4 linked regions of the Homo sapiens genome follow. The protein of the gene in region 3 purifies or fractionates together with the protein of the main gene of each other region. This does not show direct contact. Each region holds a gene or a part of one and is shown on either strand. Other genes may lie near its edges.

Region 1 (7,028 bases), on a different chromosome or scaffold from region 3:
TCCTCCTGCCTCAGCCTCCCAAAGTGCTGGGATTACAGGTGTGAGCGACCAGGCTTGGCCTATTTTCTTATATCAGAAATGTTTAGTGAAAATTGGAGGTGAAATTTGAAACAACACTCAGGACCTTTGTTGAGGCTAGGCATTTTATAATATAGATTCCCTGGAGATGACGGGGGTTGGCTGGTGCTGGAACTTGAGCCCTATCTGGCCTTTTGTAAGTGATAGAGAATTGAGAATTGAAGGCGTGCTTCCCACTGTGGTGTGACCTTGTGAGCTGGAGTCATCTAAGAAATCCCAGTCGGTGGTTTGTCCATATACCATGATTTCTCTTTAGAAATATAAACAGTAGGCTGGGCATGGTGGCTCACACTTGTAATCCCAGCACCATGGGAGGCCGAGATGGCGGGGGGGCGGGGCGGGGGGGGGGAAATCACCTGAGGTCACGAGTTCAAGACCAGCCTGACCAACATGGAGAAACCCTATCTCTACTAAAAATGCAAAACTTAGCCAGGCATGGTGGCAGGTGCCTATAATCTTAGCTACTCAGGAGCTGAGGCAGGAGAATCGCTTGAACCAGGGAGGTGGAGGTTGCAGTGAGCCAAGACTGTGCCACTGCACTCTAGCCTGGGTGACAGAGCAAGACTCCGTCTCAAAAACACACACACACACACACACACACACACGCACGCACACAAAAAAGAGATCTGTCAAGATAAAAAGCTCAATAATAGGCTAGGTGCAGTGGCTCATGCCTGTAATCCCAGCACTTTGGGAGGCGGAGGTGGGCAGATCACGAGGTCAGGAGTTCAAGACCAGCCCAACCAACATGGCGAAACCCTGTCTCTACTAAAAATACAAAAATTAGCCAGTTATGGTGGTGTGTGCGTATAGTCCCAGCTACTCCGGGAACTGAGGCAGAAGAATTGTTTGAACCTGGGAGGCGGAGGTTGCGGTGAGCCGAGATCACACCACTGCACTCCAGCCTGGGCGACAAGAGCAAAACTCCATTTGAAAAATAAAATAAAATGAAATAAAAATAAGAAATAGTGAAAATAAATAACATTCCCGAAGAGAGAAAATATAACCCCTGAGAAGGGAGAATTGGGCAAAAGTTAAAACGAACTTAAGTTCTGAGTAATGTCTGTTTGAATCTACAAGTAATAAATGCATTCTTTTAACTTCTGGATTAAATCATACATCTTAAATAGCCTTTTTGTTTAGTTCACTCAAAAGAATGCTTTTTGCTTTTGCTGTGTGGTACTTGCAAAATCAGGAGGGGTTTACTCTAAAATAGTTTTCCCTGCAGCATTCTTTGGGGCTATGGGAATGCTCAAATCAGCGGCCAGCCTTTGCTTCTCATTGCCTCCCTCTCCCCAGGCAGTTCTCCCTGCTCTGATTGTGTCTCTACTAAATGGGCCTCCTAGGAAATGGATGTTCATTCCCTGGCTTCAATTAAGTTAGCTCCAGATTGTGGCCGTCTTTCAAGTAGAGGACAGCTGAGCTTAGAATACTAACATTTCTCCCTAGATGAGGAAGGATAGATGTCAAAGGAATTCTTTTCTGACACTTCTCATATGACCTTTATGTGTCTTTTCTCAGAAGCAATATTTTGTTCAAGCCAGATGTGTTCTTGGTGTGTCAGTATGTGTAAAAACATGGCCTTCGAATATTGACATTTAGGATTTGGACAAGGTGAACCTATTTGTCAATTGAGTTAGGAAACATACTTTGTTAATAGCTCTTTCCACAATTATCTGAAATTGTTATCAGTTTGAACATGATGAAATCTGATGCCTCTTTCACTCTATACAGTTATTTGCCACTTAATGATGGGGATGCATTCTGAGAAATGTGTCATTAGTGGATTTTGTTGTGTGAACGTCATAGTGTACACAAACCTTGATGGGATATCCTACTACCTACCTAGGCCCTGTGGTACAGTCTGTTGCTCCTAGGCTACAAAGCTATACAGCCTGTTACTGTACTGAATATTGTAGGCAATTGGAACACACTGGTAAGTATTAGCATATCTAAACATAGCAAAGGTACAGTGAGAATACTTTTTTTTTTTTTTGAGACGGAGTCGCATCTTTGTTACTCAGGCTGGAGTGCAATGGCATGATCTCGGCTCACTGCAATCTCTGCCTCCCAGGTTCAAGTGATTCTCCTGCCTCAGCCTCCCAAGTAGTTGGGATTACAGGCGTGCACCACCATGCCCAGCTAATTTTGTATTTTTAGTAGAAACGGGGTTTTACCATGTTGGTCAAACTGGTCTTGAACTCCTGACCTCAAGTGATCCACCCGCCTCTGCCTCCCAAAGTGCTGGGATTACAGGCGTGAGCCACTGTGCCTGGCTGACAATGTGGTGTTATCATCTTAGGGGACCCCTGTTGTATATGCAGTATGGTTGACCTAAATGTCGTTATTCAGGGCACTCCTCCCCAGGGCTGCTTAAAAATCCATTCACTGGCTTGGAAGTTCTACCTAAAAATAGCAAGTCAGCTGGCATTTTTAATGAACATATTGAAATACCAGAGAATGAAATTCCTGTCTCTGCTGACCATTTTAATACACGTGTTCAGTCGTGTGGTTTAACACATTCAGGTAGATTGGGAGTGAGACTTGTGATTGAATTTGGGCTCTTTCGCTGATCAGCTGTTTGACCTTTAGAATATGAACTATAGTTGTAAGTTTAAAATTGCTTTCCTGTGATGTGTAGAAAATAAGGCTGTAACAAAGCAAGAAATATTTTTCAAATATGCTCCTGGAAAAATAAAATTATTGCTATTTAGCTTTGCAGGAAGAAACTTCAATAAATCTACAAGGTAGGTGCTATAATCTCATTTTACAGAGAGATATGAAACTCATATGAAAGGAGTTCACCTCCTTTCTCCCGAAATTCATTTAGAGCATCTATGAGTTTCATATCTGTCTGTAAAATGAGATTATAGTGCCTACTTTGTCAAGGTTATCGTGAAAATTATCACACATCATATGTGAAAAATAATATATATTTAATATAATTCCTGGCAGGCAGTATTAAATATTCACTAAGTAGAACTGTACTTAAGTGCAACTAGCAGAGTGACAACACATTTTAACAATGTTTCAATAACAATACAATTTTGGACTTTTAAATTTTTTTTTTGGAGTCTCGCTCTGTCGCCTAGGCTGGAGTGCAGTGGCAGGATCTCGGCTCATGGCAACCTCCACCTCCTGGGTTCAAGCAGTTCTCCCTGCCTCAGCCTCCTGAGTAGGTAGGATTACAGGTGCCTGCCACCACCCCTGGCTAATTTTTGTATTTTTAGTAGGGACAGGATTTCACCATGTTGGCCAGGCTGGTCTCGAACCCCTTACCTCAGGTGATGCACCTGCCTCGGCCTCCTAAAGTACTGGGATTACAGGCATGAGCCACTACGCCCAGCCTAAAGATTTTTTTAATACAGGGGAAATTATTAGAAATTTCTGGGTTTCCAACATTCGAAAGCTTTTGAAAGGTGATAAAGTATTATGATGAAATCATTAGTCTTCTCACTGAAGTGAAGATTAAGGTAACACATTCATTTGTAGTATTAAGAAGTATTGTAAAACAAAAATCTTCCCAGGCACAGTGGTTCAGGCCTATAATCCTAGCACTTAGGGAGGCTGAGGCAGGAGGAAGGAGATCACTTGAGGCCAGTAGCTCAAGACCAGCCTGGGCAACATAGTGAGACCCCCTGTCTGTCTGTTGGTCTGTCATGTTCGTTTGTTCTCTCTCTCAAGACATAGGGTCTTGCTGTATTGCCCAGGCTAGTCTTGAACTCGGGCCTCAAGTGATTCTCCCACCTCGGCCTCCCAAAATGCTGGAAAGGCATGAGCCACTCTGCCTGGCCCGAGACCCTGTCTCTTAAAAAAAAAAAAAAAAAAAATTCTAGGCCCAGTGCGGTGGCTCATGCCTGTAATCCCAGCACTTTGGGAGGGCAAGGCAGGCAGATCACCTGAGGTTAGGAGTTAGAGACCAGCCTGGGCAGCATGGTGAAACCCTGTCTCTACTAAAAATACAAAATTAGCCAGGTGTGGTGGCGCATGCCTGTGATCCCAGCTACTTGGGAGGCTGAGGCATGAGAATCACTTGAACATGGGAGGCAGAGGTTATAGTGAGCCAAGATCGCGCCATTGCACTCCAGCCTGGGCAACAAGAGCGGAAACTAGATCTCAAAAAAAAAAAAAAAAAAAGATATAATAGCAGTTGCAGTTTGAGTGCTTACTATGAGCCAAGTTTCATTTAATCTTCACAATAACCTTCTGAGTTAAGTGTCATTGTCCTCACTTTGTAAATTAGGAAACTTGAGGCTTTACTAGGTTAAGTTGTACTGGGAACTGTGCTGTAACCACATAGCACACGTCTCTAAATGGGGACTTACAATTAGTTTGAACTAATATAGGCCAAGCCAGGGGTCAGCAGACCTTTTTAATTATTTTTTTTCAGATGGGGTCTTGCTTTGTTGCCCAAGCTGGTCTTGAACTGCTGGACTTAAGCCATCTTCCCGCCTCAGCCTCCCTAGCAGCGGGGACTATAGGCATGCACCATCACCCCTGGCCAGTAGTCCTTTTCTGCGAAGGTCTTAACCAAACGTTTTTGGTTTTGTGGGCCATACAGTCTCTGTCCCAGTTGCTCATTACTCAGTTTTGCTGTTGTAGCACAAAAGCAGCCATAGATAATAGGTAAGTGAATGAATGTGTCTATTTCAATAAGACTTTATGGACACTGGAATTTGAAGACTTTTTTCTTTTTATTCATTACTTCCTGCACAGTGATAATTTCTTTTGGGCTGGGGGGACAGGTTCTCACTATGTGCCCAGGCTGAGTGCAGTGGTGCAGTCGTAGCCCACAACAGCCTTGAACTCCTGGGTTCAAGCAGTCCTCCTTCCTCTGCCTCCTGAGTAGCTGGGATTACAGGTGTGCACCACCACACCTGGCTAATTTTTAAATTTTTTGTAGAGACGGGTCTCACTATGTTGCCCAGGCTGGTCTCAAACTCCTGGCCTCAAGCAGTCTGCCCACATAGGCATCGCAAAGTGCTGGGATGACAGGCATGAGTCACTGCACCTGGTTGGAATTTGAATTTAATATAATTTTTACATGTCTCAAAATATTATTCTTCAGATATTTTTAACCTTTTAAAAATGTGAAATTCATAGGCTGGGCACAGTGGCTCACGCCTGTAATCCCAGCACTTTGAGAGGCTCATGCGGGTGGGTCACCTGAGGTCAGGAGTTAGAGACCAGCCTGACCAACATGGAGAAACCATGTATCTACTAAAAATACAAAATTAGCCGGGCATGGTGGCCCATGCCTGTAATCCCAGCTACTCGGGAGGCTGAGGCAGGAGAATCGCTTGAACCCAGGAGGCTGAGGTTGTGGTGAGCTGAGATCACGCCATTGCAATCCAGCCTGGGCAACAAGAGCGAAACGACGTCTCAAAAAAAAAAAAAAAAAAACAGCGAAATTCATTCTTAGCTCAAAGGCAGTACAAAAACTGACGGCAGGCCAGATTTGGCCCACACGCTATAGTTTGCAGCCCCTGTGCTAAATCATAAAAGTATTTTTTCCTGGAAGGTCATAGTTATTCATACTGTGAATATTATTTAAGAGAGCATTGAAGATTGTTTTTATATTAAAATGGAACCCGTTACCTTATGGAATAAAACCCAGAATTTAATTTTCAAGATAAAACTTGGAGGCGGGGGCCGGGCGTGGTGGCTCACGCCTGTAATCCCAGCACTTTGGGAGGCCAAGGTGGGCGGATCACGAGGTCAGAAGTTCGAGACCATCCTGGCTAACACAGTGAAACCCTGTCTCTACTAAAAATACAAAAAATTAGCCGGGTGTGGTGGCAGGTGCCTGTAGTCTTAGTTACTCGGGAGGCTGAGGCAGGAGAATGGCATGAACCCAGGAGGCGGAGCTTGCAGTGAGCAGAGCTCATGCCACTGCACTCCAGCCTGGGCGACAGAGCGAGACTCCGTCTCAAAAAAAAAACAAACAAAAAAAAAAACAAAAAAAACTTGGAGACGGCTGTGGTGGCTCACATCTGTAATCCCAGCACTTTGGGAGGTTGAGGCAGGCGCGTCACCTGAGATCACGAGTTCGAGACTAGCCTGGCCAATGTGTTGGAACCCCGTCTCTACTAAAAATACAAAAAAAATAAAAAATTAACCAGGCGTGGTCGCACTCCTGTGTTCCCAGCTACAGGGGAGGCTGAGGCAGGAGAATAGCTTGAACCTGGGAGGAAGAGGTTGTAGTGAGCCGAGATCGCGCCACTGTACTCCAGCCTAGCGACAGAGCAAGACTCTGTCTCAGAAACAAAAACAAAAAAACTTGGATTCTAAAGATACGTTGTTCTGTAGATGGTCTCTGGACCGTACTTTCCTCCTTTCTCCTCAATTTCATTTAGAGCATAAAAGCACTTTCTTAGGCTGTTTGAAGCACTTGGATTGGAAATGTTGCCTGCAGTAACCTGTATAAACATCAATATATCAATAACAGATTATTAGTGCAAAATTTAAATGTCCAAAAACTGAAAGGGAATAATGATCGGTGACTGGGTCTATGAAATTACAAAAGTAAAGCCTAAGGGAGATGGCAAGCTTTCCTATTCTGCTACCCTTGTCAGCTGATGTCTTGGTAGAATTAATAAAGTACTCTTTTTAAACTCAAAAACATCTGTTTTGAATAATACTTTTTTTTTTAACACCCTACCTTTGAGGTAACTATTGTTAATAGTTTGTGTATATCCTTCTGGAATTCTTCTATTCCTGTAGACCTTGCAGATACTTTTTTTTTTTCTACTTGCAGTTATTTTTATTTTTTGTTTTTTGAGAGTGTCTTGCTCTCTCACCCTGGCTGGAGTGTGGCGGTGTGACGATAGCTCAACCTCCTGGGCTCAAGCAATCCTCCCACCTCAGCCTCCCAAGTAGCTGGAACTATAGGCATGCGCAACCAAGCCGAAATACTTTTTTTTTTTTTTTTTTTGTAGAGACGGTTTCAC
Region 2 (7,127 bases), about 37 Mb from region 3:
CAATGGAATATAACTTCATTTTTAATTTGCAAAATATAAGGCTAAATCAAATAGCATGGCTATAATCACCAGCAATGGATGAAATGCATTTGAGAACAAAAAGAAATACAAGGACAGAGCCAAAAGTGATGAAAATGGAAGATACCTGTAGTAGTACAGTGCTATCTTAAACACCTTTTGTTTTCTGAGAGTAATGCATACTGCAGACAAGACGTTTTGTGCTAAACAGACGCAAATCTGTTTTTCTAATATTAAACACAAAGGAAAAACACTGACAGCAAGCGTGGTAAATAAATCCCTCCCTTGAGAATGAAAGCAGCAGACAGGAGGGGGCTGACATACATGCAGGAGAAAACTAAACACCATCTTTTTTTCTACCTGCACAAGTTGCCATTTGCTGCAGCGATCAAGAACCTCTCTTTCCTGTTGATTTCAAGTATCTTTCAGGATCGCTTTTCCCCCCTTAAGTCATCTGTTGATATGCCTTACGAGTGTAATATTCATATCACAGGATCTCAAGGAGAAAAATCCATTCTTTCCTGTTCAGGTAAACATGTTTACAGCAGCTGCACAGACGCTGGGTGGTTCAGACTCACATGTCACACACATGTCGTCAGCAACAAGAAAAGCCCCTTTCTCTGGCGATCAACATTTTAAATAAGGTAAAAAGCGAACAGCTCTTTCCGAACCAACTTACCTTTCATAAAGCCACATCAGCAACAGCGGCAACAGCTCAATATGGAACACACACTATTTGACGCTAAAACAGGAAATTAAAATTGCAATAGCCTATGCTCCACTCCTTGCTATAACAAGTCATCTCTCCACAATGAGAATACCAAAATACCTTTCGTTTATAATCAACAGACGTCTTTAAAATGCAAGTGTTTATTTGAATAATTAAAATCACGAAAGCAGTGATTTTAATGATGGCTCGAATATATTAAAAATATAATTATGGATTGGAAGGAAACATCTTGAAACAGCTTAAAAATCTTCGTATCTGCTTCTAGACAGGAAATCCCACACAAAATCTAAAATTGCCAGGAAAGGTTACAAAACCTCGCGTTTCGCATCCCAGAGGGGAGGGAGAAAGGGAGCCCAGGCGCGGGGGGTGGGGCTGGGGGAGCACGAGAGAGTTTTCTCCTAAACACGTATTTCCTCGTTTTCTCGACGCTGCAGCGGTCCCATTATAGACGCATTTATTGCCCCTCTCTTAAAAGTCGTTTTAAAAATAACGCAGGAACCAAAGCGAGCCCCTCGGTCCGAAATGTACGTGTAATTCCTTATATAGCCTGGGCTGCGGCCGGCGGCAGGGCCGTTGCCGCCCATTATTATACAAACAGGTACCGGGGCGGCGCAGGCGGGGGCTGCTCTCCCTGCGCTCCCGCCGCCCCCGGGCGGACAAGTCTCGCCCCTCTCGCCACAGGAACTGTCCAGACAATAACAATCAGCAGACATTTCGCTGCTGCACGAGAGGGAGAGAAAGCATAGCATCGCCCCGAGATAACCAGAAATACAATCAACTTACAACGTCTCTCCAAACTGGAAAAGGCGACTGTGCAACCACCACCACATGTTCAGGTCTCGATCCCTCGGGCTGTCTCTCTTTTTTTTTAACTCTCACGCCAGGCAGAGGGGTGTGTGTTTCCCTTGGCACAGCAGCACAAATCAATAAACACTGCAGCTGCGGTGCAAGTAGCAGCCCCGCGCGTCCGTCGGTCCGTCCGCCCCCTCCCCCACCCTCCTTCCACCCGAGACCCAGAGCGCCATCCAAGCCCCATTATCCGGCTTCAGCGCTCCGTGCGTCCGGCCCAGGTAACAACTTCCCCAAAAACCGAAAGAGAAAAGCGCGAGGCGCACGCACACCGGCCCATCCCGGCGCAGAGACCTCGTCTGCCCCGGGAGGGGGATCTGTCTGTGGTGCTTCCCGGTCTCTAAGCCCAGGTAACAACTCCGCAAACACACCCGCCGCCCAGCTCGCCCCCATCCGCGCGGCTCCCGGCGGCGTTAAGTGGGTACCTTTCCTGCCTTGTTCCCCGCGCCGCCCCGCCGCGCCCCGCCAAACGTGGACCCCACTCGCGGGGCTCGCCGCGGAGTCCCCAGGCCGGGGCTCTGGGCCGGGCAGCGGGAGGCGCCAGGGAGGAGGGGCGCTTAGGGACCCGCGCCCCCGCGCCTCTAATCCCCGTTACGCGAGCGCGCCCGGCCCGCGGGTCCCAACTTTACCGCCGCCGGCCGAACCCTGTCCGCCCGCGGCGCGCACAGCCGGCGCCCGCGCACACGCGCGCACAAACCCCACGCAACCCGCGGCCGCCCCGTCCCGCCGCCGCCGCAGCCCGCCTGCCGCGCGCCCACAGCCCGGCCCGAGTCGCGGGGCCCGAGCGACAGCGACGGCGCCGGCCGGGGCCGCGGCGCGCGGAAGCCACTTTGCACGGTCAGCGCCGGGCACAAGTTTGTTCCGCGGCTCCCGGGGGCCTGGGCGCTGAGGGAGAATCGCGCTGAGGGGGCCAGGAGGAGGGGGAGAGGGAGGCGCCGAAGGGCACAAGAGTGGGGAAAAGTGCGGAAAGAAGCAACAGCCGCTCCACCCGGGACCAGAAAAGTGGCCAGTGCGTCCCGGCCGCCCGCCCTGCGCCGGGGATGCGGCGGCGTCGGCGCCGGCTAACGGTCCAGGGAGGCGGCAGGGGCGGCGGGAGCCGCTAGGCGGAGAGAGACCAGGTAAGAGACATAACGGTTCAGGGAGAGCGAGCGGCCGCGGCGCGGCTCCGGCAGCGGCGGCAGCGGAGGGGGGCAGAGAGCACTACTTTCTACTTTCCCACTCCACTTTGCCGTCCCTGCCCCGGCTGCCCCCAGCCCGGCTCGCCCCCCTCACCCCCGGGGGCGCCCCGGCTGCCCAGCTCCCCCTGACTCCGCCGCTCCCCGGTCCCCTCCGCCACTCACCGTTATTGCGCCGCGGGTTCGCCTGCTTTCTGCGCTTACACCTGGGGCCATCCGCCATGATCCTCTCGCTTGTGTCTAAATGCTCGAGTCACCTCCTCCCCCTCCCTCCCCCTTCCCCCCCACCCCTCCGCCTCCACCCCTCCCCCCTCCCCACCGCACCTGGTTTACGACACTCCCGGCTTTACGACATCACCTTCCTTACACCTAGAGGCTCTCGCTCTACGGCCGGAACCTTGTTGCTAGGGACCGGGCGGTTTGCGGCAACCGTGGGCACTGCTGAATTTGAATTGAGGGGCGAGGGAAAAGTTTTCCTCAGGTGTGGTGGGGAGAGGGAGGCGGATGCCGGGAAACCGTAGGGACGCGGTCAGAAAGGCGACGGGCTGTCGGAGTTGGAAAGGTAAAGTTGGAGGCTCGGCGGCGTCCTGCCTCCGCGCTGGCCACACCCGCCGCGGCTGCCCGGGGCAGGGAGGGATCTGGCTGATTCTCCCTGTACCCTGTGCCCTCGGAGCTGCCCCTCCGAGCGCCCAGAGGTCCCCGCCTGCCTGCTTCCTGGAGGCAGGGCTACCATCAGTCCCACGCCTCGCGTGTCCGCCCCCCGCACCCCGGGGCCAAGGAAAGGGATCGCGGTCTGGACTCCCCGGGGAGTTCCCTTGATGAGGGGAAGGGCAGGTTTGGGGACGGCGAGGACACGCGGCGACCGGAGAGAGGCTACCTGACCCGCGCAGCCCGGACTCCCTTCCCTTCCCTTCCAGGGACGCCTGGTTTCCCCCCAAGCGAACCGGGATGGGAAGTGACTTCAATGAGATTGAACTTCAGCTGGATTGAAAGAGAGGCTAGAAGTTCCGCTTGCCAGCAGCCTCCTTAGTAGAGCGGAATGAGTAATACCCACACGGTGCTTGTCTCACTTCCCCATCCGCACCCGGCCCTCACCTGCTGTCACCTCGGCCTCCCACACCCGGTCCGCGCTCCCCGCCCTCTTCCTCGCGTAGAACCGTGGGATCCTAGGTGGCAGGACTCAGAGCTAAGGTATCCACAGGCCATGAATTCCTTCCTAAATGAGCGGTCATCGCCGTGCAGGACCTTAAGGCAAGAAGCATCGGCTGACAGATGTGATCTCTGAACCTGATAGATTGCTGATTTTATCTTATTTTATCCTTGACTTGGTACAAGTTTTGGGATTTCTGAAAAGACCATACAGATAACCACAAATATCAAGAAAGTCGTCTTCAGTATTAAGTAGAATTTAGATTTAGGTTTCCTTCCTGCTTCCCACCTCCTTCGAATAAGGAAACGTCTTTGGGACCAACTTTATGGAATAAATAAGCTGAGCTGTATTTCAAGTAATATAGTTATAAATTAACAATGTAGCAGTTATTGATAGAGAAATTGAGAAAACTGAAACGTGACCGGAGTATTGGAAATAACGTAGTACATCACCTAGCACAATGACACATAGTAGGTGCTCAATAAATTTATGCTTATAATTTTTGTCACTTCTATGGCAGGATTTTTTTATTAGGTTAAAATTATCTTTTAAACACCTTCCGGAATTTTAGAATATTCATTAATAATGTCTTCAAACCTTTCAACTGAAATAAATTTACAGCTGAAGTCTGATGATTTAAAGTTAGAAAGTTTAATCTTGAATATAAATGAACATTTTCTCTCCCACATTTTCTTGGGCATTTTGAGAAGTAAATGCGTTATTTATTGGTCCATGAAATGTGACTGTAAATATTCTTTGCTATACATTATGTCTATATATCTGCATTCATCCTCAATGCCAAAACTAGAATCATTAGTCTTAATGATCATTTTAAGTACAGGCAGTCCTCGCTTTCCTTGATACCATGTTAACCGAAACTTGTGTATGTCAACACGGTGTCCTTGCTTTGCTTGGTTAAGTGTGAGTTCTTCCTCCCTTTTTTTAAGAGTTGTACAATGTTTTTCAGTCGCCTACCGAATCAGGTCATAGACTATGGAATTGACCCCACCCCACCAACATTTTTACAGCTACCCTGATTTCTGACCAGAAAGGAAAAAAAAACTTTCCAGCTCTATCACACATTTTACCTACTCTTAAACTTAGGAGGTATTACAAATAGCATTTTCTCATGTTCTCTTTCTGGCCTGTACCTCCCTGCTAAGCTTCCTTCAGTGTTCATCCTCACCTCATAGAGAGATGAAGTGAAGAGACAAACAGAAGTCATTTTCTTCCTTACTTTAGTGGTTTCTGGTTTAGTTAGTTTGGGCCAAACTGTGGACAAGTACCTTTTCAGGTAACTTTTTTTTCTTATTTCTATGTCCTCAACACCTAGTGGAGTACGTAGCCAATAGTAGATGCTTAATAAACATTTCTTAAATTAATATTGTTGACCTTTTCTGACCCTGTTCTTGACAGTAAGGTACATAATCTGCCTTCATCCCTTTAGTCCTTAGGAACAGATAAAGTCATGGATATGAAAGTGATCACTGTCATTAATATCCACATTAAAATTGCTCTTGATTTTAGTTTCTCCATAATCATTTTCCCTAAACAATGAACTCTGTTCACCTTTTTTTTTAAAATATGCACAGTGAATATTACTGGTAGCCCAAATCTTCTAACATAAAATTTCCATTTTGTAAAAGCTTCTGATAAGCATATATGTTATGAATTGAATGTTTGATTATTATACTTTAATATTCTTGAAAATATTGATACCTGGACTGGAAAGAAAACAGACAAAAGTAAATCTCAGAATAAATTACTGCTTTAAACATGATGCATGTGTGACGGTTGCTTCTTATCTCTTAAATACAGCTAAAGAATAGGGGAAAAATCTTTAGAATCAATTTATAAAAGAAGATTATTAAAATTTAGGTTTATTCAAATCAAACGGTAGGGGATACTAATATATGACTTTAACATGTATCCTGCATTCTTGGTTTTAGTAATTGTAGTGCTGTCATACAGCATACATTCAATATATATGCTTATTTTTAATATGTCAATGAAATGTTAACACACTGCTTCTACTGAGCACTGGGATTATATATGCTGAAGGGAAGATATTCTAAAAATGAATTTCTATACTATTCCAAATTTACAGGGAAAAATGTAAATGGATAGAATAGTTCCAATACTGAGTTTTTTCTATAAATTTTTCATAAACCCTTTGCACCTATTTGCTTTTCATATATGATTCCTGTATAAATTAGGATAAAATTTGACATAAAATTATCTTAAGTTTAAAATGTAGAGATTTCACGGTGTTCCACATGAAGCATATCATTCCCACATACCTCTTCCAAAACACATTGAGAAGTGCAATGTATAATTCTCTAGTCTTCATCAAAATTTAAAGTTCGTTAATTTCATGGAAGGATAGCATGTAAATGCAACTCTTGAATTCAATACCTAATTTTAATCTTAGAGTTTTTGAAGGAAAAAGAATGTGATACATGTTATCCCTCAAAGTACAGAATGTAGAGGTCCCATAAAGCCGCTACTCAATTCTTGTCTCTGACCATGGCTCCTGACCTACAGTAATTCTGGATTTGCAGTTCACCGTGGAACAAAGGAGGGCAATGGTCATTTCACTGTTGCAGTCTCACCAAATTCTGCAGTCATTGAGTCAGGAAGGAAACATGACTACAGGGTGATGCAGAACCCACAGTTGGCCACAGGACCCATGCCAGCCCTTCGAATACAGCCTCCCAGGAGATATCACAGGGACAAATGTTTTCTCCATACTTCCATGTGATTTTTGTTACATAGTTTACCACAGAATGGTTCTTACCCCTCTGGGGAATGAGGCTCCTATTTTTAATGTAAGTCAATGAAATGTTAACACGTGTAGTTTCTTATTTACGAGGTGATTTTTCAGGAACGTGTGTAATACAGAGATAGATATAAATATATGGAGAAAGATGTTTGCAGGATGTCGGTGAATATCCAAAAAGTAAAACTAGTGTTTTCCATGAAGTCACAGTAATTAAAAAGGATTTCTTTCAAAGGCTGCCTCCATAGAAGTTAGATTGTAGTTTCTATTACTAATATTACTTATGAATATGAATAACATTTAATTTTTTCTACACTTAATTATATGTAGGTAACTTGAGAGGAAGCAACACACATATTTTTGATTTAAGTGAATTTTAATTATTTACCATGATATCAGTGGTCTGATAGCTGGTTTCTACTGCTG
Region 3 (7,818 bases):
ACGGTGAGCCGAGATCGCGCCATTGCACTCCAGCCTCCGCAACAAGAGCGAAACTCTGTCTCAAAACAAACAAACCAAAAACCGTACATTTACTCTCTAAAATTAACAGCTCTGAGCCATACCTATCCGTGGCCTTGGAGTCCAGTCACTAGAGCTTGCATGTGAGGCTCTATCCTCCTCATCACTTTCACAGGAATGAAAACCATTAGTGATAATTTCATCACCGAACAGAAGGTTATCTGCAAAAGAAACCAAGTCAGTCAAGGCTATCAAAACAACATGCACCTAAAATGTATGAACGGTTATAGAGCAATCATTTTCATCGAGTACAGCATTTAACATTTACACGGCGTGTGTAAAGCATGCCTATGGGGTCAGCTTGCACTGTTCATTGGAACAGTTTCTTCATCTTTAGGAATTCTGCTCACTCAGTTTCAGCCAAAATCTAAAAATAAATTAAGTCTACTTAAAAAACAGAAAAGATAGCCGGGAGCGGTGGCTCACGCCTCTAATTCCAGAGCTTTGGGAGGCCGAGGCAGGCGGATCACCTGAGGTTGAGAATTCGAGACCAGCCTGACCAACATGGAGAAATCTCGTCTCTACTAATAATACAAAAATTAGCCGGGCATGGTGGCGCATGCCTGTAATCCCAACTACTCAGGAGGCTGAGGCACGAGAATGGCTTGAACCCGGGAAGCGGAGGTTGCGGTGAGCCGAGATCACGCCATTGCACTCCAGCTTGGGTAACAAGAGCGAAACTCCACCTTTTAAAAAAAAAGAAAAGGAAAAAAAAAAAGAAAAGATAATAATCTAGCTAGAATGTATCATACAATCACAAACAATAGCGTTCGTGAAACGTGTAATAAATGGACATTTACATAAAAACGTCATTCAAATATAACCTTGGCAATGCGCACGTTAAACTTACACAATACTACAAGTACCTCTGCATTGTTTCCTCTATTAAATAAACAGTATTAATAACACAATTATTATTAGGTAAATAATAAATTAGTACTCAACTGTGTTGCTTGAAATCAGGGTCTCTTTACTAAATCAGTCCCTAAAAACACATATTACTTTTTTTTTTTTTTTTTTTTGAGACGGGGTCTCACTCTGTTGCCCACCCTGGAGTGCAGTGGCAGGATCACAGCTCACTGCAACCTCGAACTCTAGTACCTGGGACTAAAGGTGTGCGACACCACGTCCCGCTTTTTTTACTTTTAGTAGAGAGGAGGTCTCGCTATGTTGCCCAGGCTGGCCTGAAACTCCTAGGCTCAAGAGATCCTCCCGCTTTGGCCTCCCAAAGTGCTAGGATTACACGAAAGAGCCACCGCGCCCGGCCTGACCCAAATATTGATAAAGATGAACACCTATCAAGGATAGAAACTCCTCAGATCAAAAATAAGAAACCTGACCGGGCGCGGTGGCTCACGCCTGTAATCCCAGCACTTTGGGCGGCCGAGGCGGACGGATCACGAAGTCAAGAAATCAAGACCATCCTGGCCAACATGGTGAAACCCCGTCTCTGCTAAAAACACAAAAATTAGCTGGGCGTGGTGGCGGGTGTCTGTAGTCCCAGCTACTCGGCAGGCTGAAGGAGAATCGGTTGAACGCGGGAGGCGGAGGTTGCACTGAGCCGAGATCGCGCCACTGCACTCCAGCCTAGCGACAGAGCGAGACTCCGTCTCAAAAAAAAAAAAAAAAAAAAAAAGAAACCTTCAAGAACATGACAACTGCAACATATCTGCTTCATTATGCTAGAAGTGTTAAGTTTGTGTCTCAATACTACATACATACAAAAAAAGCATGTTTAGCCCAAACACCATTACCGCACAAGAGCAAGATTAGAATAAAAGTAATATGAACAGCTCTAAAAGTACTCTCTCTCCCATACCCACTCCTAACTGCATTACAGAATGGTAATGTCTTCAGGAACAGCCACGTTCTTTAAATTTTGCAAGCTGTGACTATAGAAACAGCTTTCCTCTTTCAAAAATTGTAATTTCAGTCATAAAAATATAGACCAAAAAAAGCAAACTGCACAGGTGTCAAGTTTGCAAAAAGCAATTGAAAACGCAGACCAACGGGACAGCCAAAAAGTTGCAGACTTAAGTGTGCTGGGGGGTAGAGGAGAAAAGCAATGAAAATAAAAAATAAAGAAAAAGAAAAAAAAAGCTCTAACAAAAGCAATATGCTAAAAGAGTAAGAGGGGGAGAGAAACTTATTTTAAAGCGACTGCGAGAGTCTCCCGACCTGGCTGCTGCGGAAAGAACAAGGCCGCCCAGGCGGGCCACGGACGGAGGAAAAGAGCGAATCCACTGGCAGCTCGCGCAGTAGGAACCGCAGCCCCGGAGGAGCGCGGCTGAACGGAGGGCCGGGGTGGGGAGGGGAACGCCGCGGAGCCTGCCCCGAGCCCCCAGCCGCCCTCAACCTCAGGCCAGTAGGAGCCCGGGGAGAGGGAGGAGGAGATGCGCAGTTCCGGCCGCCCGCACCCTGCGCACCTCGGTACCCAATCGCCGCCGCCGCCGCCTCTTCCTCCTCCTCGCCCTCGTCGTCGTCGTCTTCGTCGTACAAGTTGTCGGCCAGCGGTGGCTCCCGAGATGGGCCCTGCAGGCCCGGCCCATTGTCTCCTTCCCCAGCCGCCGCAGTCGCCTGGGCCTCTTGCTCCCCGCCTGCCGCCGCCGCCTCTGCCTCCGCCTCCCGCCACAGCGCCGCCGCCGCCGCACCCGGGCAGCCCCTGGCCGCCGCCGGCACCTCACGCTCTGGGGCCGCCCCACCGGGCTCGCCCGGGCTCCGCTCGAGGCCGGGACCATCTCTCCGCGGCCTCTTGCGGAGCGGCTCCCCGGCGGGGGACGACGCGGCCTCCCTGTCGGCCCCCGCCGCCGAGGGGGAGCCGCCGGGCTGAAGGGCGAGGGCCGCCTCGTCCGCCATCTTCCAACTGCCTCTCTGGCCCTCCTCCCTCGCCTCCTCTGCTCCCGCTCGACGCGCGGCACTGGCGCCCCCGCGGCTCCGGCTGCGGGAGATTTAAACCCCATCACGTGACCCGCCCCATCGCCGCCCCCGCCCTCTCGGCGCTCCCGCCACCCACGCGGGCCAGACCACAACACTACGGGTCACGTGGCGGGCGGAGGCTGTTGCGTCTACCGCTCCGCCTGGGCTGGAAGCGCACTCGGCCCCGGCGGCCGGCGGCCCTTCCTCTTTGTGGCGAGCGTGTAGTGCAGCCAAATTCGCCCCTCGGCCGCTTTCTCAACTTCTCTTTCAAACTGACCTCAAATCACTACCGCCGGAACAGCTCAAGTTTTGGTCCGCCCTGGGAATTTCCACGTCTTCCTGAAGTGTACACCTGGCCTGCCTTAGCCTTGTCTATATTTAGCTAAGGGTTAAAACACAGCTGAAGCTGGCTAAGACTTAGCTCCCTGAAATACGTTGGATAGTCGTTCTGTTTTGTTAATAAGTAGGAAGAGAGGCAAAAGGAGGCGGCTCCTTTCCCACTCTCCTCACACCGTTCTGACAGCTCCTCTTTTGCTCCTTTTTCTGCTCCTTGCTTTTCTCCTTAGTCGGTTGCTTTTTTCCCCTCTCTCCCATCACTTGTAGGGTGGTATACATTGTAAAATCCTTGAAGGCATATGTCCTCCTGGGAAGACCTTTGACGTGGAGGTTTGGAGATCAGCCGATCTACTTTCTGGCCCCAGCTTGGCTTCAAACGTGTGTGAATTCCCTCCTCCGGGCCTCAGTTTTCTCACGTGCAGAATGGGTTTGTTGGGTCAGTATGAGAGCATGGGAAGGAAATGACTTGGCCTCCATGCACATCTGCCCTTGGTTAAAATTTGGAGTCCTTCCTTTCTAGCGTGAGCTATCTAGCCGTTTCTAAACTTAATTTTTCTCATGTCTTAAATGGTAATAAGTATTTTAAAACGTCATAGATTTAAATGAGATAACCAGATGTAAAACGAGGGGTACCTAGTAGTTCAAAAGGCTTAGTGGAAAGCCCTTCCACTTTCCTCTCTCCCTGAAATTCTGGCACACTGTGACTCCATATCTAATCTTAACTAAGGACCCATATAACCCATGGTAGATCTAGAGCCAGTGTTTGTTATGGCATCTGCCTGGAGCACAGCGTTTCTATCTGTTTAAAGGACCTCTACGAGTTTATGGTACACTGTCCCTTAAGCCTAGTATGGGTTCTGGCCATACTGCATCAATTACCTGCGTGACTTTAGGCAACCAACTTAAAGCTGTTTCTTCATCCTTAAAATAAAAAATAAAAAGCTGGAAATATATCGCTAAGGTCCTATCTACATCCAAAAGTCTTATTTCATCTGGTCACCACTATTCATTTCTGAAAGTAATCATCTCCAGTCCTAGAAGCCTTAAAACCATCTTTGGTTGCGTGGGGGTCAAGGGGAGGGAGAGCATTAGGACAAATAGCTAATGCATGCGGGACTTAAAACCTGGCTGGGCGCGGTGGCTGCTGCCTGTAATCCCAGCACTTTGGGAGGCCGAGGCGGACAGATCACCTGAAGTCGGAAGTTCGAGACCAGCCTGACCAACATGGAGAAACCCCGTCTCTACTAAAAATACAAAATTAGCCGGGCGTGGTGGCACATGCCTGTAATCCCAGCTACTCAGAAGGCTGAGGCAGGAGAATCGCTTGAACCCAGCAGGCAGAGGTTGCGGTGAGCCGAGATCGCACCATTGCACACCAGCCTGGGCAGCAAGAGCGAAACTCCGTCTCAAAAAAAAATATAAATAAAACCTAGATGAGGGGTTGATTGGTGCAGCAAACCACCATGGCTCACCTATAAGTATGTAACAAACCTACACATTCTGCACCTGTATCCTGGAACTTAAATTAAAAAAAAAATCTTTGAAGCGTTCCTTCATACCAATCCCTCTGAAATCCATCTGACCAATCAATGACCAAATCCTGTTGTCCTTCCTTTCTTGCTACACTCCTCCCAATTCCTGACTAGGCACCACACTCCTAGTGGTTGACATACTTGGTCCTCCCCACTTTCTGTCTTACACTACAAAATATTTCATAAATTGACTCTCAGCTACGTTGGTGGAATGCAATATATGAAATGTTGAGAGTCAGTATCCCAATAAAACAGAAACAAAATTCCCAGCTTTTTTGAGAAAAAGATGTCTGTAAGCTTATGAGCATCCTGTTGTTCATTAATTCATTTATATTTATAGTATATTATTGACACGTGAAGTTTATGAACTACAAGAAATGCTATGTGATCAATATTATTGTTAGTATGCTGAGAGGTCAGAGATGCAGTATGCTTTTCAGGTAGGATAAATGAGAAACAGAAATTGTATTACAACAAACACAAAAACAAAAAATCCCAATTAGACTTCTGGTCTACCACTGGTTAAGAACTAACATTAAGGCTAGGCGCTGTGGCTCACGCCTATAAATCCCAGCACTTTGGGAGGCCAAGGCGGGCGGATCACCTGATGTCAGGAGTTCGAGACCAGCCTGACCAGTATGATGTAACCCCGTCTCCACTAAAAATACAAAAATTAGCCCAGAGTGGTGGCATGCGCCTGTAATCCCAGCTACTCGGGAGGCTGAGACGGGAGAATCGCTTGAACTCAGGAGGTGGAGGTTGCAGTGACCTGAGACAGTGCCATTGCACTCCAGCCTGGGCAACAAGAGTGAAACTCTGTCTCAAAAAAAAAAAAAAAAAAAAAAGAACATTAATATTCTGGCTGACTTAGTAGTTCTATTCTCCTAAGTTAATAAATTGGCCTGCCAAGCACGGTGGCTGACGCCTGTAATCCCAGCACTTTGGGAGGTCGAGGCGGGTGGATCACGAGGTCAGGAGATCAAGACCATCCTGGCTAACACGGTGAAACCCCGTGTCTACTAAAAATACAAAAAATTAGCCGGGTGTGGTGGCGGGCGCCTGTAGTCCCAGCTACTCGGGAGGTTGAGGCAGGAGAATGGCGTGAACCCAGGAGGCGGAGCTTGCAGTGAGCCGGGATCGCGCCACTGCACTCTGGCCTGGGCGACAGAGTGAGACTCCATCGCAAAAAAAATAAAAATAAGAATAAATAAAAAATGAATAAATAAAAAAATAAATTGGCCTAATAGCTCTGATATCAGTCTCATGTGACTACAATTAGTAAGGGAGTTAGTATCAACTCTTTTGTACTAATAAAATGTTATTGTCAAAACTGAAAAACACAAATGGAAATCCCTACTTCACACAATATACGAAAATAAATTCCAGCCAGGCGCGGTGGCTCACTCCTGTAATCCCAGCACTTTGGGAGGCTGAGGGGGGGCAGATCACCTGAAGTCGGGAGTTCAAGACCAGCCTGGCCAACATGGACAAACTACTACTGACTCTACTAAAAAATAAATTAGCCAGGTGTGGTGGCACATTCCTGTAATCCCAACTACTTGGGAGGCTGAGGGAGGAGAATTGCTTGAACCTGGGAGGCGGAGATTGCAGTGAGCCGAGATTGCACCATTGCACTCCAGCCAGGGCAACAAGAGCAAAACTTCATCTCAAAAATATAAAAAATTAAAAATTCCAGATGGATTGAAGATCTAAATGAAAAAATACAAAAATAAAAATATGACATTTTAGAATATTTATAACTTTGGATCAAGAAAGAACTTTTTAGCAAGGCAGGAGCCATTTTTTAAATGATAAAAATATTTGACAATATAAAAATTTAAAATATGCTCAAACCTATTAGTAGTCAGGGATACGTAGTGAAAAAATGTCCTAGCCAAGTACAATGGCTCATACCTATAATCCCAGCACTTTAGGAAGCTGAGGTGGAAGGATGGCTTGAGACCAAGAATTTGAGATCAGCCTGGGCCACACAGTGAGACCTCATCTCTCCAAAACCTTTAAAAATTAGTCCAGCATCCTGCTTTGCGCCTGTAGTCCGAGCTACTTGGGAGGCTGAGGCAGGAGGACTGTTTGAGCCTGAAGGTCGAGGCTGCAGTGAGCCACGGTCTAGCCACTGCACTCCAACCTGGGCAACACAGCAAGACCCTAACTCAAAAAAATAAAATACGGCTGGGCGCAGTGGCTCACGCCTGTAATCCCAGCACTTTGGGAGGCTGAGGCGGGCAGATCATGAGGTCAGGAGATTGAGACCATCCTGGCTAACATGGTGAAACCCCGTCTCCACTAAAAATACAAAAAAATTAGCCAGGCGTGGTGGTGGGCGCCTGTAGTCCCAGTTACTCGGGAGGCTGAGGCAGAAGAATGGCGGAAACCCAGGAGGCAGAGCTTGCAGTGAGCCAAGATCACGCACTGCACTCCAGCCTGGGCGACAGAGTGAGACTCCATCTCAAAAAAAATAAATAAAGTAACATCCGGGTGCGGTCAGTCATGCCTGTAATGCTAGTACTTTGGGAGGCCAATGTGGGCAGATCACTTGACGTCAGGAGTTCGAAACCAGCCTGGCCAAAATGGTGAAACCCCATCTCTACTAAAAATATACGATAATTAGCCAGGCATGGTGGTGCACGTCTGTAATCTCAGCTACTCGGGAGGCTGAGGAACGAGAATCACTTGGACCTGGGAGGTGGAGGTTGCAGTGAGCCGAGATTGCGCCACTGCACTCCAGCCTAGGTGACAGAGTGAGACTCCGTCTCAAAAATAAAATAAAATAACATTAAAACATGACCGGGAGTGGTGGCTCACACCTGTAATCCCAGCACTTTGGGAGGCTGAGGCAGGAGGTCAACAGTTTGAGACCAGCCTGGCCAATATTGTGAAACCCTGTCTCTACTAAAAATTAGCCAGGTGTGGTGGCACAGGTCTGTGATCCCAGCTA
Region 4 (6,931 bases), on a different chromosome or scaffold from region 3:
GGCGACCTTGTCCCCGCCGCCTCCAAAAGGGGGCCCTAGGCCGGCGGCCCCAGCGGCCACTTCGGCCGCCTCGGCCCTGCCGTACAGCGCTTCCTCCTCCTCCACGTGAGCCTCCACGTGCGCGTTCAGCTGCTCAGAGCTGGGGAAGCCCTTGCCGCACGGAATGCACACGTACAGGTTGTCACCGAAGCTCTCGGGCTCGCCATAGGCCAGGTGCGGGCATGGGTAGCCCTCGAGGTGGCCGCCAGGCGGGCTGGGGTCCTCGCTGCTACCGGTCTCCTCGCTGCTGCTCTTGTAGTCGTCGCCGTCGCCGCCCGCGCCGGGCCCGTCCAGGCTGCCAGGGTAGCGCGGCGGCGGCGCCAGGCCGAGCGGGGGCCCCCCGGGCGAGACGGCCGCGTCCCCACCACGCTCTTCGCAGCGCTCGCTGGGGGAGCCGCGCTCCCGGCCCAGCTCGTCGCCATAGCTACCCAGGCCCGGCTCGTGCTTCATCCAGCGATAGAGGAGACTAGGCCCGTCGGGGCGGCCGGGGGGCTCGGGTCCCGGGCTGCCGCTGCCGCCGCGAAATGGGTCGGAAGGCGGTGCGGCCTCCTCCAGCTTCTGGAAGGGCAGCGGCGGCAGCGACGGCAGGGCGAGAGGCGGCTCCTTGTAGGCGGCGGGGCCGGCGCTGGGAGGGCTGTCCGGGCGCGGGGGCAGCTCGCGCTCAGCCAGCGGCCGCTCTGGCGCCGCGGAGCCCGGCGGGCTCTTCTTGGACAGGTCCAGGCCACAAAGAGGGGAGCAGCGGCGCTCCGAGGCACAGAGTGCGGCGGCCGGGCCGGGTCCCGACGCGTACAGCTCGGCGCAGTGCGTGTTGACCGCGGCCTCTGGGCCCGAGGGCGGCTCCGCGGCAGGCGGCGGCGGAGGCCCGACTGGGGACGGGTAGCAGGCCTGGATGACCGGCGTGGCGGCCCGCAGGCCCCGGCCCGGCCGACCATAGGGCGCGTAGCCGCCGCCGCCGCCGCCGCCGCCCCGCAGGTGGCAGTACTTGCCGTGGCGCTTGAGGCGTTTCTTGCACAGCGCCACGAGGTCGGGGATCTGCAGGTAGCTGGCGGCGGCCAGCACGGCGCCCAGGCTCGGCTCAGCCCCCGGGGCCACGGCCGCGGCCGCAGCCGCCTCTGCGCCGTCAGCCAGGCGGCCGGTGTAGATGAAGTCCAGCACCAGGCGGAACACGGCCGGGCTCACCATGTCATGGTCCAGGTTGAGCAGGTTGTCATGCACCACCAGGGACTTGAGGTAGGCGCTGCTGGCCGCCAGCACGTTCTTGTGCGCGCGGAAGAGGGCGTTCTGCACCACGATGATCACGTCGCACAAGAAGCCCTTGGTGCGCTGGTTGTTGAGCTGCAGCAGCAGCTGCCTGGAGTGGCCGGGCGCCTCCATCGTGTCCAGCATCGTCTGCCCAGCACACTCTCCTGCGGGGACACACACCGGCCGGGTGAGAGCCGTGCGGCGCCCTGGCCGCCTGGCCCCAGCCCGGCACTTCTCCCCTCCACTTCCCCTTCCCTCAGCTGAGCGGGGGCATCAGCCCTGCGGCCTGGGCACCGGCGAAGGACCGGCTGCCCTCTGGAGTGGGAGCCCAGGCCGGCCCGCCCGGACCAGGAGAAGGAGCAGGAGGTGAGCGGCCGCCGGTGGAGGGGAGGCCAGGGCGGCCTGCACGCCCCAGGGCACCTGGCTGGGTGCTGGGGCTTCCGAGAAGAAAACTGTTCAGGCGCAGTGACCCTTTTGGAGACAGTTACCCGATTTAAGTAAAATGTCCGCTTCAGGAAAAGTCATTCAGGGCGGAGAACTTTACCCAAGTAGGGAGAAAGGGAGCCGAGGAACCAGCGCCTCCCGCCTCGGGAGAAGTTGCCCCAGTTGGGGGAAGTGATACGGAGGAGGGGAGCGCGGTGCCCGCCCTGGCGCCGCCCTGGCCGGGGGCTGTCAACCCTCGGTCGGGGCCCGGGCGGCGGCCGCGCGGGGAGCGGAGGCAGCGGCTGCCGTGGCGGGCAGAGCGCGAAGGCCGGGCCCGGCGCGGGGAGGGCGTTATATCGGGGCAGGAGGCTGAGGCAGGAAGCAGGTGGGGGGGAGGGGGGAGCCACGCAGCTCCCAGGGGAGGGAGGGGGCAGCGCCCCGGGCGGGCACGGCGCACAGCCGGCTGCGGCCCTGACCCGGGCCTGCGCCCCACCCGCGTCCCGGCCTCGGCCTGGGCCCTACACGCGCGGGCCCGGCGCCTCCCTCCGCGGCTCCCCCGGCCCCTTCTCCCCCGGAACTCCGCCGCCCCAAACTTGGGGAAAAGTTTTCCAACTGCAGACAGGGCGGGAGGAGTGCGCCGGCCCCAGGCCCTCGGCTCGCAGCTCTTCCTCGCGGCCCCCAAATCCGGCGGCAGAGCCCGGAGCCGAGCCCTGAGCTCCCCTGCCCGCTGCTCGCCCGCCCGACCCCGTTCCCCTCCTGGCCCGCGGGGCCCCGCGGCCCGTTACCTGCGGTCCCGGCGGGCCGGGCTCCCCTCCCCGCGGCGGTGGCAGCTCTTAGCCGATGCCCCACCCGCCGCTGCCAGGCCCCGAGCTGTGCCAGGGCAGCGCCCCTGCCAGCCCCGCCCGCCAGCTCCCCTTCCCTTCCCTTCCCCTCGCCTCTCCAGCCCATGTGCGGGCAGAGCCGGCCCCGGGCCGCTGACCCCGCCGTGAACCCGGCGCGGAGCCGCGGCCCGGTGGTCCTGAGTCCGAAAGGGACGACACCCGGAGCCCTGAACGCCAGCCGCCAGCCGCGATGGGGCACCCGCGCCAGAAGATGCACCCGAGGCGGCCGACGCACGAGGACCGGGCTGTCCCGGGTCCCCCGTCCCTCCCGGTCCCCGGCTCGAGGACCCACCTGGGGGGCATGTCGAAAGCCCCGGGCCCGGCTGACGGCGGATCCAGGGGGGACGTGGCTGCGCTGCCCTCCGCCCGCCGGGCCCCCGGTCGGTCTGTCCTGCTGGTCCGTCCTCCCCGCGTCCTGGTCGCGTCTCAGCCCCGCCGCGCTTTCCGCACACTCTTATCTGGAGCGGCCCGGGCCGGCGGGCGCTGCTGCGGCTATGGCGCCACCTCGCGGGCGCGCAGGGCTCTGCGCGGCAGGCCGCTGCCTTCCTCCCGCGCACCTGAGCTGGAGGCGCACAGATGCTGAGCCCGCGGGGAGGGGCCCACCCTACCCGCAGGTTCGCCCTCCCACCTGTACCCACCTGGGACCCCGACCCCGGACACGCGAGTCCCAGAAACCCTGGGGCTTTGAGCTGAGCGCTCCCATGTACGTATTTCTAGGCACACAGCCCCAGTTCGGAAAAGTCCTGCCCGCGAGCACGGGACTCGGGTGGTGGGGGAGAGGTTATCCTGCGCAGGAGTAGCCGAGCTCTCCTGGAACTCCCCGTAGACATTACTGTACGGCACTGTCCACTTGGACGCACTCCCCAACACACCCACCCTCACTCAGGCGCATGGATTCGGTGTGCGCGGCATAAACTGATTTGTCCCCAGCCCTATCCAGGCACTGATACTAACAGGCGCTCATGTTTCCAGAAGCACACCCGCCCCTTCCCGCAGCCCTAGCGCTCTGGGATACTCCAGGGGCAGCCACGTAGGGCCCTCCGGGAACCTGGGCAGAGGTGTTACCCACACAGCCCGCCCTGAACTTTCGGGTCTCCTAAAGGAACCCACGACGAGTCATCAGGGCGACTGGAAGTGGCTGGACAGCGCCTCCGGGGGGTCCAAAGAAGTAACCATGGGGCCCTAGAATCCCCCTGTACGCCGTTTTGAAGAATCCCGCGTGGACTTCTTCTCCAACCCACCCGCCCGAAGGAAACAACAGGGGCGCCTGCGGCTGGGACCCCGCAAGGTCCCGCGCCCCACGTGAAGGTCAGGTTTGTGTGGGTGACGTCTCTTCTGGGAGAAAGGGGACCCCGCACTGTCGCGCCGCTGCTCGCAGTACTACTCCGGAAGTGGCCCCGTGCAGCCCCGCCGCGCACCAAGCCTCCTGCGAACGCCGGATCTCCGCGGCCCACGCTCCGCCTCCGCCCCGCACCTCCTGACCCCCGCCCACACACGGCGTGGAGCGGGGGGGGGGGGGGTCCCCGAGAACTCCGCCGCTTCCGATTGGCTGCGCCTCCCTCCACCGCGGAGCGCGAGGGGCTGGGGCGCTGCGTTACCATGGCAACCGGTGAGGTGCGCCCAGATCCTGTCCCTCCGAGGCCTTGGAGAGCTTAGCAACCGCGCTCGCCGCCCCCCGCGCTGTCCTCTGGCCCCCATGGCCCCGCCAGAGGTACCGGCTGAGTCACCGGGCGAGGGGCAGCGGGCGCGGCTACCAGCGGCCCCCGAGCGACACCAAGGTCTCGGGCGCCCCCCGGAGGCTCCCTTTGCTGCGCAGGCGACTTCACGGCTTCGGTGCCTGGCGGAGGCTTCGGTCCAAACGAGTCCGCCTGATTCCCGCCGCTGCCTGAGTCCGCCCCATGTTCTGGATCCATCTTACCCACTCCCTCTCCCATGTCTCCCCATAGCATCCTCACTTTAGAAGCAGTGAGGTCCCAAAGAGGAAAACGGAGGCCTCCGGAGCTGCCGGTCTCTAGGGAAGGCGGACCCCGACATCTCGCCCGAGGGACGTGCTGCGGCCTGAGGTGGAAGTTACGGAGTGTTGAGGGGAGGTGGAGAGGCTCCTCATAAGTGCTCCTAGAGCTGGGCTTTGACGGATGAATAGGAGTTCTTCTACCGAGCAGGAAGGCATTTGTGAATAACAGAATCCCTGGAACAAAGGCTAGCGGCAAGAAAACTGGAGCTCTAGTAGGCCAAATCCAGACTATGCAGGGCCTCTCTGACCCCATCTCTTTTATCTTTTCTCTTTTTGATAGAGTCAGATCCCCCACCCCCGACTTCCAAAGAGCCCCTCCGCCCCATGTATCTTGTGCAGTGGAGTCTGTGCATTGCTAACCTGCCCCAGGGGTCTGCTGTGCCCACAGTCTTTATTCTTCAGCGTTCCCCCACATCCGCTCCCCAAGTTAACTTACTGCCCCTAACCCCATCCTCAAGCCCTCATTGCTTCTGTAAGGGAGGGTCTCACAGCCCTGCCCCAGCCCAGGCCCCTAACCCCATCCTCAAGCCCTCATTGCTTCTGTAAGGGAGGGTCTCACAGCCCTGCCCCAGCCCAGGCCCCTAACCCCATCCTCAAGCCCTCATTGCTTCTGTAAGGGAGGGTCTCACAGCCCTGCCCCAGCCCAGGCCCCTAACCCCATCCTCAAGCCCTCATTGCTTCTGTAAGGGAGGGTCTCACAGCCCTGCCCCAGCCCAGGCCCCTAACCCCCTCCTCAAGCCCTCATTGCTTCTGTAAGGGAGGGTCTCACAGCCCTGCCCCAGCCCAGGCCCCTAACCCCCTCCTCAAGCCCTCATTGCTTCTGTAAGGGAGGGTCTCACAGCCCTGCCCCAGCCCAGGCCCCTAACCCCCTCCTCAAGCCCTCATTGCTTCTGTAAGGGAGGGTCTCACAGCCCTGCCCCAGCCCAGGCCCCTAACCCCATCCTCAAGCCCTCATTGCTTCTGTAAGGGAGGGTCTCACAGCCCTGCCCCAGCCCAGGCCCCTAACCCCCTCCTCAAGCCCTCATTGCTTCTGTAAGGGAGGGTCTCACAGCCCTGCCCCAGCCCAGGCCCCTAACCCCCTCCTCAAGCCCTCATTGCTTCTGTAAGGGAGGGTCTCACAGCCCTGCCCCAGCCCAGGCAGGGTGAGGACCGCCTTGCCCTCCTGTGCACTTCACTCTTCGACCTTTCTCTCCCTGCCCCGCTCTTCCGGCCATGCCTTGCACAGCCCTCCCCATCCTGGTCCAGCTCCTCGTCTGAACACACTCCTCTCATTTAGACCCTTCCTCCATCTCGATGGAGCCAGGCTGGGCCAGGACCATGCATTTCCCCGCTCCCAACCAGGGGAACTGCCCCACAAGTCATGGGCTCTCCCTGCCAATTCTGGTCTCCGGGAACATTAACTTCTCCAGGAAACCGTCCTCCTCATCCCCTGGGGGCCCCTCTTGGCCAAGCTGCTGGTCTCCTTCACTCTCTATTACCCTAACGTGAGCTCTGGGAGCGTCCATCGTGCCACAAATGGTCCGAAGGTGGGTCCTGGATGCCAGGCTCTGGAGCGTGGCACTGACAGCCTTTCCTCTCTCCCTTGCTGAGGCTGCCCATTCCTCTCACCCCTACCTCTGGCGCGTTCCCCCAGCTCCCTCATAGAGGATCCCGTTGCTCATCATTTCTGGGGAGGTTGGCCCACCTTCCCCAACTTCTCTGCCGTCCCTCGGGTCTCCAGCTCCTGGGTGGTACCTGAATCCCCGCTGGGCCTTCCCTCCCAGGCCCAGGTTCCTCCGCTAAAGACTCCTGGGCTACTTTGGGCTCCCCTACTCTTCTTCTCCCGGCCCCCGACGCCACAGCCCTCGCTGCGCCCCAGGCCCCCACGGGAGTCCAGCTTCCTCTCCTGCCCACCCTGCAGGACGAGAGGGTGGCGACACCGCAGTGGCCTTGCGGGGTGTGACGGCAGAAACGTCAGGTCCAGGAACTGAGGAGGGGGAAGGGGCTGCCACGTGAAGACCCCCAGGAGCCGCGGGGCTCCGGAAGGAGAGCGTGAATAAGCTCGAAGGGCCCGCCGCGCCCCTCCGCGCCGCCTCCCCGGCCCCAGGCCCGCGGTTCCGGAAAGTTAACCCCTTGTCGGCTGGGCAGGGGCGCGGCTCCCCCTACCCCGCCGCCGCTTCCGCGCCCCCTCCTCCCCTCCCGGTCGCCTCGGTCCCCACCCCCCGCCTCGCCACTATAAATAGCCCCTTTTCCCATTTCCTAAATTCCCCGCTGACGTCGGCAGCGCGTCAGTGTGTAGGAGCCGCGGCCGCATGAATGAGCCGCCGCACGAGTACTACGCGCGCCTATAAAA

The links.
Region 1: the proteins of SIRT1 (region 3) and TULP3 purify together in Homo sapiens (affinity purification with mass spectrometry; 6 studies listed by BioGRID and IntAct, with this or other methods). This does not show direct contact.
Region 2: the proteins of SIRT1 (region 3) and ZEB1 purify together in Homo sapiens (affinity purification with western blotting; 4 studies listed by BioGRID, with this or other methods). This does not show direct contact.
Region 4: the proteins of SIRT1 (region 3) and HIC1 purify together in Homo sapiens (affinity purification with western blotting; 4 studies listed by BioGRID and IntAct, with this or other methods). This does not show direct contact.

What each region holds. Positions count from the first base shown.
Region 1 is NC_000012.12:2,893,884-2,900,911, forward strand, and holds part of TULP3 (tubby-related protein 3), read left to right. Parts: intron 1-7,028. UniProt on the Homo sapiens protein: Negative regulator of the Shh signaling transduction pathway: recruited to primary cilia via association with the IFT complex A (IFT-A) and is required for recruitment of G protein-coupled receptor GPR161 to cilia, a promoter of PKA-dependent basal repression machinery in Shh signaling.
Region 2 is NC_000010.11:31,315,103-31,322,229, reverse strand, and holds the start of ZEB1 (zinc finger E-box-binding homeobox 1), read right to left. Parts: upstream 3,015-7,127; 5' UTR 2,996-3,014; coding exon 2,938-2,995; intron 2,716-2,937; exon of another isoform or gene 2,023-2,715; intron 1,948-2,022; exon of another isoform or gene 1,783-1,947; intron 1,677-1,782; exon of another isoform or gene 1,532-1,676; intron 1,030-1,531; exon of another isoform or gene 705-1,029; coding exon of another isoform or gene 698-704; intron 571-697; exon of another isoform or gene 395-570; coding exon of another isoform or gene 379-394; intron 1-378. UniProt on the Homo sapiens protein: Acts as a transcriptional repressor. Inhibits interleukin-2 (IL-2) gene expression. Enhances or represses the promoter activity of the ATP1A1 gene depending on the quantity of cDNA and on the cell type.
Region 3 is NC_000010.11:67,879,838-67,887,655, reverse strand, and holds the start of SIRT1 (NAD-dependent protein deacetylase sirtuin-1), read right to left. Parts: upstream 3,001-7,818; 5' UTR 2,935-3,000; coding exon 2,505-2,934; intron 2,476-2,504; exon of another isoform or gene 2,257-2,475; intron 240-2,256; coding exon 123-239; intron 1-122. UniProt on the Homo sapiens protein: NAD-dependent protein deacetylase that links transcriptional regulation directly to intracellular energetics and participates in the coordination of several separated cellular functions such as cell cycle, response to DNA damage, metabolism, apoptosis and autophagy.
Region 4 is NC_000017.11:2,051,185-2,058,115, reverse strand, and holds the start of HIC1 (hypermethylated in cancer 1 protein), read right to left. Parts: upstream 3,014-6,931; 5' UTR 2,878-3,013; intron 1,807-2,877; coding exon of another isoform or gene 1,770-1,806; intron 1,446-1,769; coding exon of another isoform or gene 1,426-1,445; coding exon 1-1,425. UniProt on the Homo sapiens protein: Transcriptional repressor. Recognizes and binds to the consensus sequence '5-[CG]NG[CG]GGGCA[CA]CC-3'. May act as a tumor suppressor. Involved in development of head, face, limbs and ventral body wall.